2 separate regions of the Homo sapiens genome follow, and region 2 is linked to region 1. Evidence: fine-mapped expression QTL. Tissue or cell type: whole blood. Region 1 holds a variant in brackets; the other region holds the start of a gene. All regions are shown on one strand. Distances are from middle to middle.

Region 1 (5,190 bases):
CATCAGGATGTGGTGAGGACGTATGAGATGACGCCCCCAATGCTGGGTGGAGGCTGGCATCCAACTGTGTCTTGCCCGACAGACTCAGGGGGAAAGGACGTGGCCCAGGCAGGTGTCCTTGAGGGCAGAGGTCGAAGTGGATAATGGCACTGTGGTCTAGGTGACCTACCCCAGTGCTGACTGTGGGTGGGGGAACAGAGCTAGTGGCCTGGCTGATGGCAGAGGGGCTGGGGGAGTTGGGGGAAACATGAGACTGGGTTTGTAGGGCCCCTAAGGAGGAGCTCAGGACCCGGTCCAGGTGGGTACGAGTCCTAGGTTCCTTTGCCCCAAGAGGGGGGTCTGGGGCAGTGGCACGTTCAGGACCCTTCCTCAGTCCCTCACTGGAATGTCCTGGGCATCGGCACAACTTCGGGTGAGCTTGGCTCCACCAGCTGGGGGCGTCCCTCTGCGCCCTGCAGCCCATCACTGTCACCGTGTCCCACTGTGGGCCGGGCCACAGGGGCTCCATGGAGTCCAGGGACCCTTGGGACAACAGCCTGACAAGCAAGGATCCTTATTTTATTTCTGCTTTCAGAATGAAAACCCCATGCACGCTGCCAGCTGCCAGCTGCACTTGCTACAGTTCAGGACAGATGAAGGGAACCCCAGCCTTTGGCCCCCTGGACTCAGCCTGCTCTCAGAAGGGCACCGAGGCGAGTGCCTGGTGGATCTGAGGCTGTGGGCAAAGGGAGAGGAGCGTGTTCTGGGTGTGCTTTGCGGCGAGACCCCATGGCCGATGCTGTAAGGTGCTCTATCCACAGCCCCTGGGCTGTCGACGGGCGCCTGCACTGGGAGGCTAGAGGCCATGTGGAAGATGGGGAGACTCATGGCTTCTGCAGCCCCTAGACTTGGTGAAAGGTGATGGCAACAGTTAACTGCAGTGGCGGGCAGATCAGCTGATTGGAACCGGCTTTCCACAGTGCTCCCTTCCTGTTTTTTGGTCAGCATTACACAGCGAGGCTGCAACCCTCGCGGGGGGCGGGGGTCAGGGGGTGCATCCAGCGACACTCAAACCTCAAAACAGCTCAACTTCTCCTTTCGGGGAGCTGAGAAAAAATCCCCAATCGATGCAGCGAGTTGTGCTGATCTCCGGCTTTCTGCAGCCCGGGCGAGAGAGGGGAGAGCAGAGAGGCAGCCTGAACGGGGGGCTGGGGCTCAGGCCGGGTTCAAACCCCGGGTTAGGCTTTGGCTCTCTGCGGTGTGGCCTGGGGAATCTACCTGCAGTGGGTTGACTTGTGGCTTCCCAAAAAAGACATGTCTAAGTCCTTACCCCCAGAACCTGTGACTGTGGCTTTATCTGGAAACGGGGTCTTGGCAGATGTCATGAAGGTAAGTATTTTGAGATGAGGTGATCCCATGAGAGAAAGGCAAGGGAGATTGGACACACACAGGGGAGAAGACCAGGTGACGACGGAGGGAGAGGGCAGAGTGATGCGGCCACAAGCCCAGAGCTCCAAGGATGGCTGAAGCCACCAGAACCCGGGAGAGAGGCCTGGGACAGATTCTCCCTCAGAGCCTCCAGAGGGACCCAGCCCTGCCCACACCTTGATTTTCAACTTCTGGCCTCCAGAACTGTGAGAGAATCAACCCCTGCTGTTTGAGGGCTCCCAGCCCGTAATACTTTGTTATAGACACCTCAGGAAACTCACACATCCACGTGTCTCTCTGGGGCTCAGTTTCCTCATCTTTAAAATGGGCAGAGCTGCCGTGAGGGATTAGAGATGATGGAGGAAAATCACGAAGCCCAAACCCTGATACCCAGTGGGCCTGAGGTCTTATTCCTCTTATTAGAAAATGATGGCCGGGCGCAGTGGCTCATGCTTGTAATCCCAGCACTTTGGGAGGCTGAGGTGGGCGGACCACGAGGTCAGGAGATCGAGACCATTCTGGCTAACACGGTGAAACCCCATCTCTACTAAAAATACAAAAAATTAGCTGGGTGTGGTGGTGAGCACCTGTAGTCCCAGCTACTCAGGAGGCTGAGGCAGGAGAATGGCACGAACCCGGGAGGCAGAACTTGCAGTGAGCCGAGATCGCGCCACTGCACTCCAGCCCGGAGACAGAGAGAAACTCTGTTTCAAAATAAATAAATAAATAAATAAATAAATAAATAAATAAATAAATAAATAAAATTAAAAAAAAGATTCTTGGGGCCAGGCATGGTGGCTCACGCCTATAATCCCAGCACTTTGGGAGGCTGAGGAGGGCAGATTACTTGAGGTCAGGAGTTTGAGACCAGCCTGGCCACTATGGTGAAACCCGTCTCTACTAAAAATACAAACATTAGCCGGGCACGGTGGTGGGCGCCTGTAGTCCCAGCTACTCGGGAGGGCTGAGGCAGGAGAATCAAACCCAGGAGGCAGAGGTTCCAGTGAGCCGAGATCGTGCCACTGCACTCCAGCCTGGGCGATAGAGCAAGACTCTATCTCAAAAAAAGAAAAAAAGAAAATGACTCTTAAGTTAGCACAGAACAGAAAGAACTCACAGATAATTTCTAAAAGCTCAGTGGC[T/C]GCAATGAACAGTGATTGGGTCTTATGGGAAGAACTCAAAGACAGCTGTTCTATTCCCAGGGGGTGATTTGTCCCCAGGGGACAACGGGAAGCTATTTTGTTAATACCTCTCTAATCAATGAAATGTCTGGGGACACTTCTGGGTGTCACACCTGCGGGGTGGGGAGTGCTCCTGGCATCTGGTGGGTGGAGGCCAGGGATGCTGCTCAATGTCCTTCAATGCACAGGATGACTCCCTCCCCAGAGAACGATCCGGCCCTGAATGTCAGCAGAGCCAGGTTGAGAAATCCAGCTCTCAGTGAAGACAATCACATCCCTTTGCAAACAGTCGCCCCAGGAAGCACGTTTATTGCCATGACGTGGATTTGGCTCAAGCCTGTTTTGGAAGCCGGCGTGGGCACCACCCTCGAGCGGCTTAGAACCGCTGGAGAAAACTGGCCTCGCCAGCCCCCGCTGCTGAGGCCCCAAGCAGGTTGGCCTGGCAGGACCGGGGGTCTGACTCACAGAGGGTGACTAATGGCTGTTGAAGGCATACTGGAGACTGTGCAGGCGTGGAGGCTGGAGGGAGCTTTGCTGGCATCCGGGGAGGAACTACCGGTCCCCAGGACAATCGCGGATCTGGGGCAGCCCTCAAGGACCCAGGCACAAGATGTCACCAAGTGGGACTTGCCAGGGGCCAGGTAGGACTTGAAGCAGACCAGGTGGGGCTGTATGGGGGATGCTGTGGGCTGACTTGAGCCCCCCGCCCCCAAAATTATATCCACATCCTCACCCCCAGAAACTGTGTATGTGACCTTATTTGGAAATAGGGTCTTTGCAAATGCAATTAGGTAGGATGAGGTCATGCCGGGGTAGGATGGGCCCTACATCCCATGAGTGGTGTCCTTGTTATAAGAAAGCCACGTGAAGACATGGACACACAGGAAGAACGCCCCTGACGACAGAGGCAGAGACTGATGTGACGTGGCCACAGGCCAGGGCACATCTGCAGCCACCAGAGAAGCTGAAGAGGCCTGAAGCATCCTCCCCCAGAGCCGGGAGGGAGTGCGGCCCCGTGGACACCTTGATTTCAGACTTCTGGCCTCCAGGACCATGAGAGCCTTAATCCCTGTTGTTGGAGACTCCCTTGCCCCTAACACTTAGCAACAGGAAACTTGTCCACGCCCTGGAGGGTCCTAGTGAGATGGCGCTGTGGAGGCAGCAACGTGGTGGGGAGGACATGGACCCTGAACTGAGACCTAGGTGGCAATCCTGCCTCCTGGCCGTGCCACTTTGAGACCCTGGGGCTGGGCGTGTCATTTCTGCGGGGCTCAGGCATTTACCCACCTGCCTAGTCCCATTTGGCAAAATGTCTGACATGGTAAATGTTGGATCTACCCTCTCATTCATTCACCTACTAAATTTTTTTTGTTATTTTTTTGAGACAGGGTCTTGCTCTGTCACCCAGGCTGGAGTGCAGTGTGTGATCACAGCTCACTGCAGTCTTGAACTTCTGGGCTCAAGCAATCCTCCCACTTCAAGCTCCTGAGAGCTGAGACCACAGGCATGCACTGCCATGCCTGGCTAATTTTTTATTTTTATTTTTAATTTTGAGACAGATTTCGCTCTTGTTGCCCAGGCTGGAGTGCAATGGTGCGATATTGGCTCACTGCAACCTCCACCTCCCAAGTTCAAGCCATTCTCCTGCCTCAGCCTCCGAAGTACCTGGGATTATAGGCGCTCGCCACCACACCTGGCTAATTTTTGTATTTTTAGTAGAGACGGGGTTTCACCATGTTTGCCAGGCTGGTCTCGAACTCTTGACCTCAGGTGATCCACCTGCCTTGGCCTCCCAAAGTGTTGGGATTACAGGCATGAGCCACTGCACCCAGCCTAGTTTTTAAACTTTTTGGTAGAGATGGGGTCTTGCAATGTTACCCAGGCTGGTCTGGAATTCCTAGGCTCACGCAATCCTCCTGACTCAGGACTCAGCCTCCTGACTCTGGGATTACAGGTGTGTGCCACACATGCTGAATTTTCAAGATCACTGTTTTATCTCGGGTGTGGATGCCAGGCACTGATGTTTTGGCCTGGAGAGCCGTTGAGCCCCCTGGCCACCTGCTGGGAGGACACTGGGGCCACTGGCAGTTTCACTGTGGCTGAGTCTCAGAGCTGGGATGACGCCAGGGCGGCCTCGGGAGACCAGAGCTGGGTTGCATCTACCTCTGCTCAGAACCTCTATAGCTCCTGTGTCACCCAGAGTCTTCCCCGAGTTCTACCTGGGGAGAATTTTGTGTTGACTTTGGCCACCACATAGCCCAGCACCTATATCATAGCCTGCCACACAGCAAATGCTCACACAGCAATGAACGGGCGGTCTGGGTATATAATGTAATGCACACAAGACAAGCCATATTAAAAACAGCTGAGGTGGGAGGATCACTGGAAGCCAGGAGTTCGAGACCAGCCTGGAGAACATAGTAAGACTGTGTCTCTACAGAAAATTTAAAAATTAGCCGGGCATGGTGGTGCACACCTGGAATTCCAGCTACTTGGGTGGGAGGATCGCTTGAGCCCAGAAGTTCTCGAGGCTGCGGTGAGTTATGATTGTGCCACTGCACTCCATTCTAGGTAACGGAGAGAGACCCTGACAAGAAAGGAA
Region 2 (5,127 bases), 33 kb after region 1:
CATCACCACGCCGGGCTAATTTTTGTATTTTTAGTGGAGACAGGGTTTCTCCATATTGGTCAGGCTGGTCTTGAACTCCTGACCTTGTGATCCACCCACCTTGGCCTCCCAAAGGGATTACAGGCCTGAGCCACCGCGGCCCAGCTTGAACTCCATTCTTTCTGAAGAGGAAGTGCAAAGTTGTCGGGGGCGGGCATTAGCGTGTCCGTCCTCTGGGTCATAAGGATTCACCTCTGTCCCCAGGAATCTACCAAGTGTCTGGCACAATCAACCCTTGCCTAACTGAAATCTAGGCCCACCCAAGACACACCATTTGGAAGAGATGAGGAATGGGAAGCAGCAAGTTAACAAGTCCATGTGGGGAGAGAATAACGAATCCTACAGCCAAACAGAAAGGGGAGATTCCCACGTCTCTACCTGCTCCACTGAGTCACCAGACTGGACCCGAGGGACGGTACTGCCTCGGGATTTCCAGAAATTTGCAGTTTCCAAAGCTTTGGGAATAGGTGCAATGTGCAAAAGCACCTTCAACACCGCAATTTTCTATTTGGACGATGAAGAAGCGGTTGAAAAAAAATCATTTTTGGATACAAACTGTCGAATGGAAAACGGAATAAAAGTAGGATCATCGCAGCCAGGAATGGAGAGTGGGGGTGCTGTGAGGAGTTCAAGGCCGGGAGCTGGGGGACATGGACTGGAGACAAGACGGTGATGAGAAGAGTTGGGTTTCAAGGTTGAAAAACGCTGATGGAGGTCAATTCATTCATTTTGCAGGTGAGAGGTCAGAAACAGGCACAGAGACTTGACCAAAGCCAGGATCTCCAACACAGTGCTCCCCCCACAAGACCCTGCTTGGCCATTCTCTAGCGGCAGGGAAGAGGCGATTGCAGGGCTGCGGGATCAGAAGATCCCGGTCCTGTTCTGTAGGCCAGTGCAAGCCTACAGTTCAATGTTTGCAGGAGGCATGACTGTGGGCTGTCACTGCATGTCCTGGGGCAAGCCAGGCCAAAGCCACCTTTCCTAAAGGCCAGGATATTCTGGAAGTGAAGGGGGTGCTTATCTTTCTGTGGCCCTCTTTATATTCCAGCTATCCGGGTTCATCTCCTGAATGAGCTATAAACTAAACATAAGCTGGGGTTCCCCAGCCCTTCTGGCAGATCCCAGATAAAGATCCCTACAGTTGGGAAAGGGGAGAAATGAATGCCAATCAAAAGCACCCTGCACAAAGTCCCTGCCAGGGCCACAAGAGCCAGGCCTGTCAGATGTGAATAACTTTCCTGTAGCCCAGGTCACCTCCGGCTGCTCCTGGACACCTTAAGATTCTGAAGACTCCAACATCAAAAAACAAACCGAGTTGGGACTCTCTGGCTGGAAAGTGTCCCCACGGGCTCCCACCTCAGACAAAGAGGCAGAGAAGCCATCCCTTAAAGACCCCTGGCCTCCAGGGTGCCCAGGAAAGAAAGGAGGGCTCGTGGCTGTCGTGCCTCTCCAGGGCTGAGCTCAGAGCAACCGGGGGACAGATTTCCTGTATGTCGTTTTACCCATTTAAGTCCAAGGATGCAGCTCTGCGGAGGTGGCGACAGTCCTGTACATGAGGGTGCATGCACACTCCCTCCTGAAACACAGTTCCGGCCCCACAACCGGCCCTGAGGTCCCTTCCTTGGATCCAGGGAATCCCAGAATCCTGCTAGTCCTGTCTTAAGGGGAGGGTGGTGAAGTTTCCAAGACGAGGACACTGGCACAGAGGGTGTTGGGACTCGTCCCAGGTCACCCAGCTGTTAAGTGTGAAGTCAGGAGGGACACGAATCAAGAGGGGAGGGTGGGGGGACGGAATCTCCAGGGGCTGCATCTCAACATCTATCTGCACGGGGCCACTCTAACCCCTTCCTTCTCTTCCCTCCTCTCCGGGCCCTCCCTCCCTAAGCCTACCCTCAGTTCTTACCGTGACTTCTACTCCGTTTACTTCCCTTCCAGCTCCCATTTCCCCGCTTCCCAATAGCCGGCTGCCGCATCAGTTAGTTCAGAACCCCCCGCATTTACTGAGCGCCCACTGGGGGCCAGGCGCCGCCCTCTTCTCAGACACCCTTCCTTCAATCGCGCGGGCAGACGTCCCCAGATCGGTCTCGCACCCCTTCCCCTCAACCGCACCCCGGCTGTCCCGCCCCTGGCCTTGCCCACTCCCCCAGCCTGGGCCTCTCGTTCCCGCCTCCGTGCCTCCCCACAACGCCGTTTCCTGCGACCCCCCAATTACCACTTAAGCCACGTCCTCTTCAGAGAAGCTGCTCAAAGCCACAAGACTCACCCCCCCCACGCCCTCGAACTCCCTCACCAGCTCCATCCCCATCCACTTTCTCCTTCACCGTCTCGCTTCCACCTCATCCCCAGCAATCTCTCCAAGACCCCCAGGCTCGTTCCCGCCCCCTCGACCCCTGCCGTCGCGTCCCCCATCAGCCCTCAGCTCCGTCCCTCTTCTGCGCAGCCCCCAAAGGCAGGCTTCGAGCTCGAGTCGCCAACCCGAGGCTGCCTGGTACTCACCTGGCCTCGGCCGCCGCGCGCCGCCGGTCCCGGGCCGGGTCCCCGGCCGGACGACCGCCTGCCAGCCCGCCGCTGCTCGAGCCGCTCCGCCCCGCCGCGCCCGCCGCTCCCCCGCGCGCTCCCGCTTCCGGGTTCCGGAGAGGCGGGGACGGGGGCGTGACGCCAGCGCTCCTAGGGGCGGGGCATCGCGAAAAGCCCCGCCCCTACTGTCCGACAGATCAGGTCCCACCCACCGCCCCTACCCACTACCGCCGATGGTGGGCGAGACCAAGTGCGAGGGGAGGACAGGCGAAGCGCGCGTCTGGGGCCGCGCTCTCCACACTTAGCCGGCGCTGCCTCACGCCTCGCAGCCACCCCTCCTGCGTCTCCACAAATGGTCCGACCCGCAAGCAAGGGGGCGGGTCCGGCTTTGAAAAGCCGGCGGGTCGGGCCTTGAGGTGGAAGGCGGGAAAATGGCGGATTCCTCGGGGCGAGGCGCTGGGTGAGTTGGGGCTTCCGCAGGTCTGGATTTGTAGACGCCATAGGGCTGGAGAGGATGGGCAGCGGAGGTGGGGAGTTAGGACCCTCGGGGTGAGTTCGGGTTCGACCCCGCCAGGAACTGCGCGGGCCCCTGAAGACCCCGATGGCGTGCTGCCTCTGCGCATGCTCCGGAGCGCTGACACCCGACCGGCCCTGAGTTCCGCGTCCTCGGCTGGGACGCTGGGCGACCTCCGGCAAGCGGCCTGACCGCCCAGTGCCTCGCTTTCCTCCGCTACGAAATGGGGCCGATGACGCAGCTCAACCTCGTAGGCGTCGCGTGAGGCTGAAACGCGCTTAGATCGGCGCCTGGGTCTTTACTGTGATGTCGCTCTTGGAATTATCGTTATGCAGTGAACAAGTGTTGGGCGACCAAAGTGTCCCCTTTAATCCTCCCACGCGCTTTATTCTGTGCTCCCAGTTTACTGAGGAGATGATGGAGACCCAGGGAGGGGAAGTGACTTGCCTAGGGTAACACACCATGAACAAGAAAGAAGTTGAATACTGACCGAGAGCTAGGCATGAATGATCATGAGGCTATATTTGTCTAGTTTTGTTAATTCTGCCAGTGTTGATTGTGCCAGGTGCAAACTGAAGTGAAATTGGCCAGCAAGAGGAATCACTCCACCGCCCCTTGCCGTAACCGATAGATTGACAGTAGCACCTCCCAGGTACAGGTGCAGTAGCTGAGGCTCGCACAGGTTGTAGGGACCCCCCTCAGGTCGCAGCAGGTTCACCCAGGAGCCCATTCGGTTTGAGGCCACAGCCCTAGCACAGTCCCCAGAGGGAGTCTGTGCTCTTGTCTCTTTCTGGCTGTGAGACTGCCCCGGGGGTGACCTATGTAAAACCTGTGCGTCTTTGTTTTGCAGCGACGAAAAAGCAGGTGTGAACAGTTAGGAAGCTGTCGGGTTAGGAGGAGCCTACGGGCGAGCGCAGCTGCTGGCACCTGGCGAACATTTGCTAAGTTGCCTCTCCCCACGGTGGCCTGGAAGTGTCCCCAACATTGTCTGGGTCTCACTTTGGGGTCCTGGGAGCCTGCTTCAGAGGAGGTGGCCGCAGGGACCAGTGGAGCCGCCTTTGGTGATGGGAGCAGGAGTTACAGTGCCCTGGCCTTGGCCCTGCCCCTCCACTTGCCCATCCACTTGCCCCTCCTGTGTTGCTGGTGTCTGTTCTTGGATCCCTTCTTTTCTCACCAGCTCAGGCTGAAACCCTGAAACCCCTAGTCATCCCAGATTCTCCCTCTCCTGCACCCCCACAGCTGATGAGTCAGCGATTCCTATCTCAGGGTCCCTTCTTTCCTATTACATCAGGCTTCATTCTATTTTTATTTTTATTTTTATTTTTATTTATTTATTTATTGAGACGGAGTCTCACTGTCACCCTGGCTGGAGTGCAATGGCGTGATCTTGGCTCACTGCAACCTGTGCCTCCCGGGTTCAAGCAGTTCTCCTGTGTCAGTCTCCTGAGTAGGAGGGACTACAGGCGCATGCCACCACCCCAGCTCATTTTTGTATTTTTAGTAGAGATGGGGTTTCACCATGTTAGCCAGGATGGTCTCGATCTCCTGACCTCGTGATCCGCCAGCCTCAGCCTCCCAAAGTGAGGTACCTGCTGGGACCACTCCTCGTACCTGCCTGTCAAGATGTTGTTCTTCCCTTTCTGGGAAGGAGCTCTGTGTTTTGTTACCACTGTGTCTCTACTGGAATATAGTAGGTGCATCAATGTCTGGTGAATGAATGAACCCAGGGATAATTTGAGATCTGCTGTGATCTCTTCCACAGAGCTCTCATTACCCTCCTCTCTTCTCAGTTTGGGTGTTCACCTATGCCTTCTTGCCCAGGTGACCAGGGCTGGCTGCTCCTTGTGTCCCTTTTCCTGTTGAGGTGGCCCACCCTCACTGAAATTGTCCTCTGGCAGCCCTTGGACTGGGCTGTCTGAGCTTCAACTAGCAGAGGCACCTCGCCGGCTTCCCTGTGCTTCTTGGGTAGTGAGGTGAACAAGACCTCTCTCTCTTCTCTTGCAGGAAGCCTGCAACCGGCCCCACAAATTCTAGCAGTGCCAAGAAGAAGGATAAAA

Evidence for each region. PIP is the estimated chance that this variant, and not a neighbour inherited with it, causes the effect.
Region 2: MYO9B starts here. The variant in region 1 is fine-mapped to the expression of MYO9B in whole blood (INTERVAL, PIP 0.99).

What each region holds. Positions count from the first base shown.
Region 1 is chr19:17,106,013-17,111,202 of GRCh38, reverse strand. The region is part of intron 2 of MYO9B (myosin IXB); the gene reads right to left. Among named protein-coding and RNA genes, the nearest start is that of SNORA118, 16 kb to the right of the region's middle. RefSeq lists enhancers at 297-798, 762-871, 2,904-2,953. The variant T/C (reference allele first, on the strand shown) is at 2,550.
Region 2 is chr19:17,073,283-17,078,409 of GRCh38, reverse strand. It overlaps MYO9B (myosin IXB), which reads right to left and starts at 2,633. Exons shown (of 40, transcript NM_004145.4): 1 at 2,536-2,633. It overlaps HAUS8 (HAUS augmin like complex subunit 8), which reads left to right and starts at 2,958. Exons shown (of 11, transcript NM_033417.2): 1 at 2,958-3,016; 2 at 5,075-5,127. The coding sequence starts at 2,988. RefSeq lists silencers at 2,197-2,491, 2,486-2,835 and an enhancer at 3,016-3,215.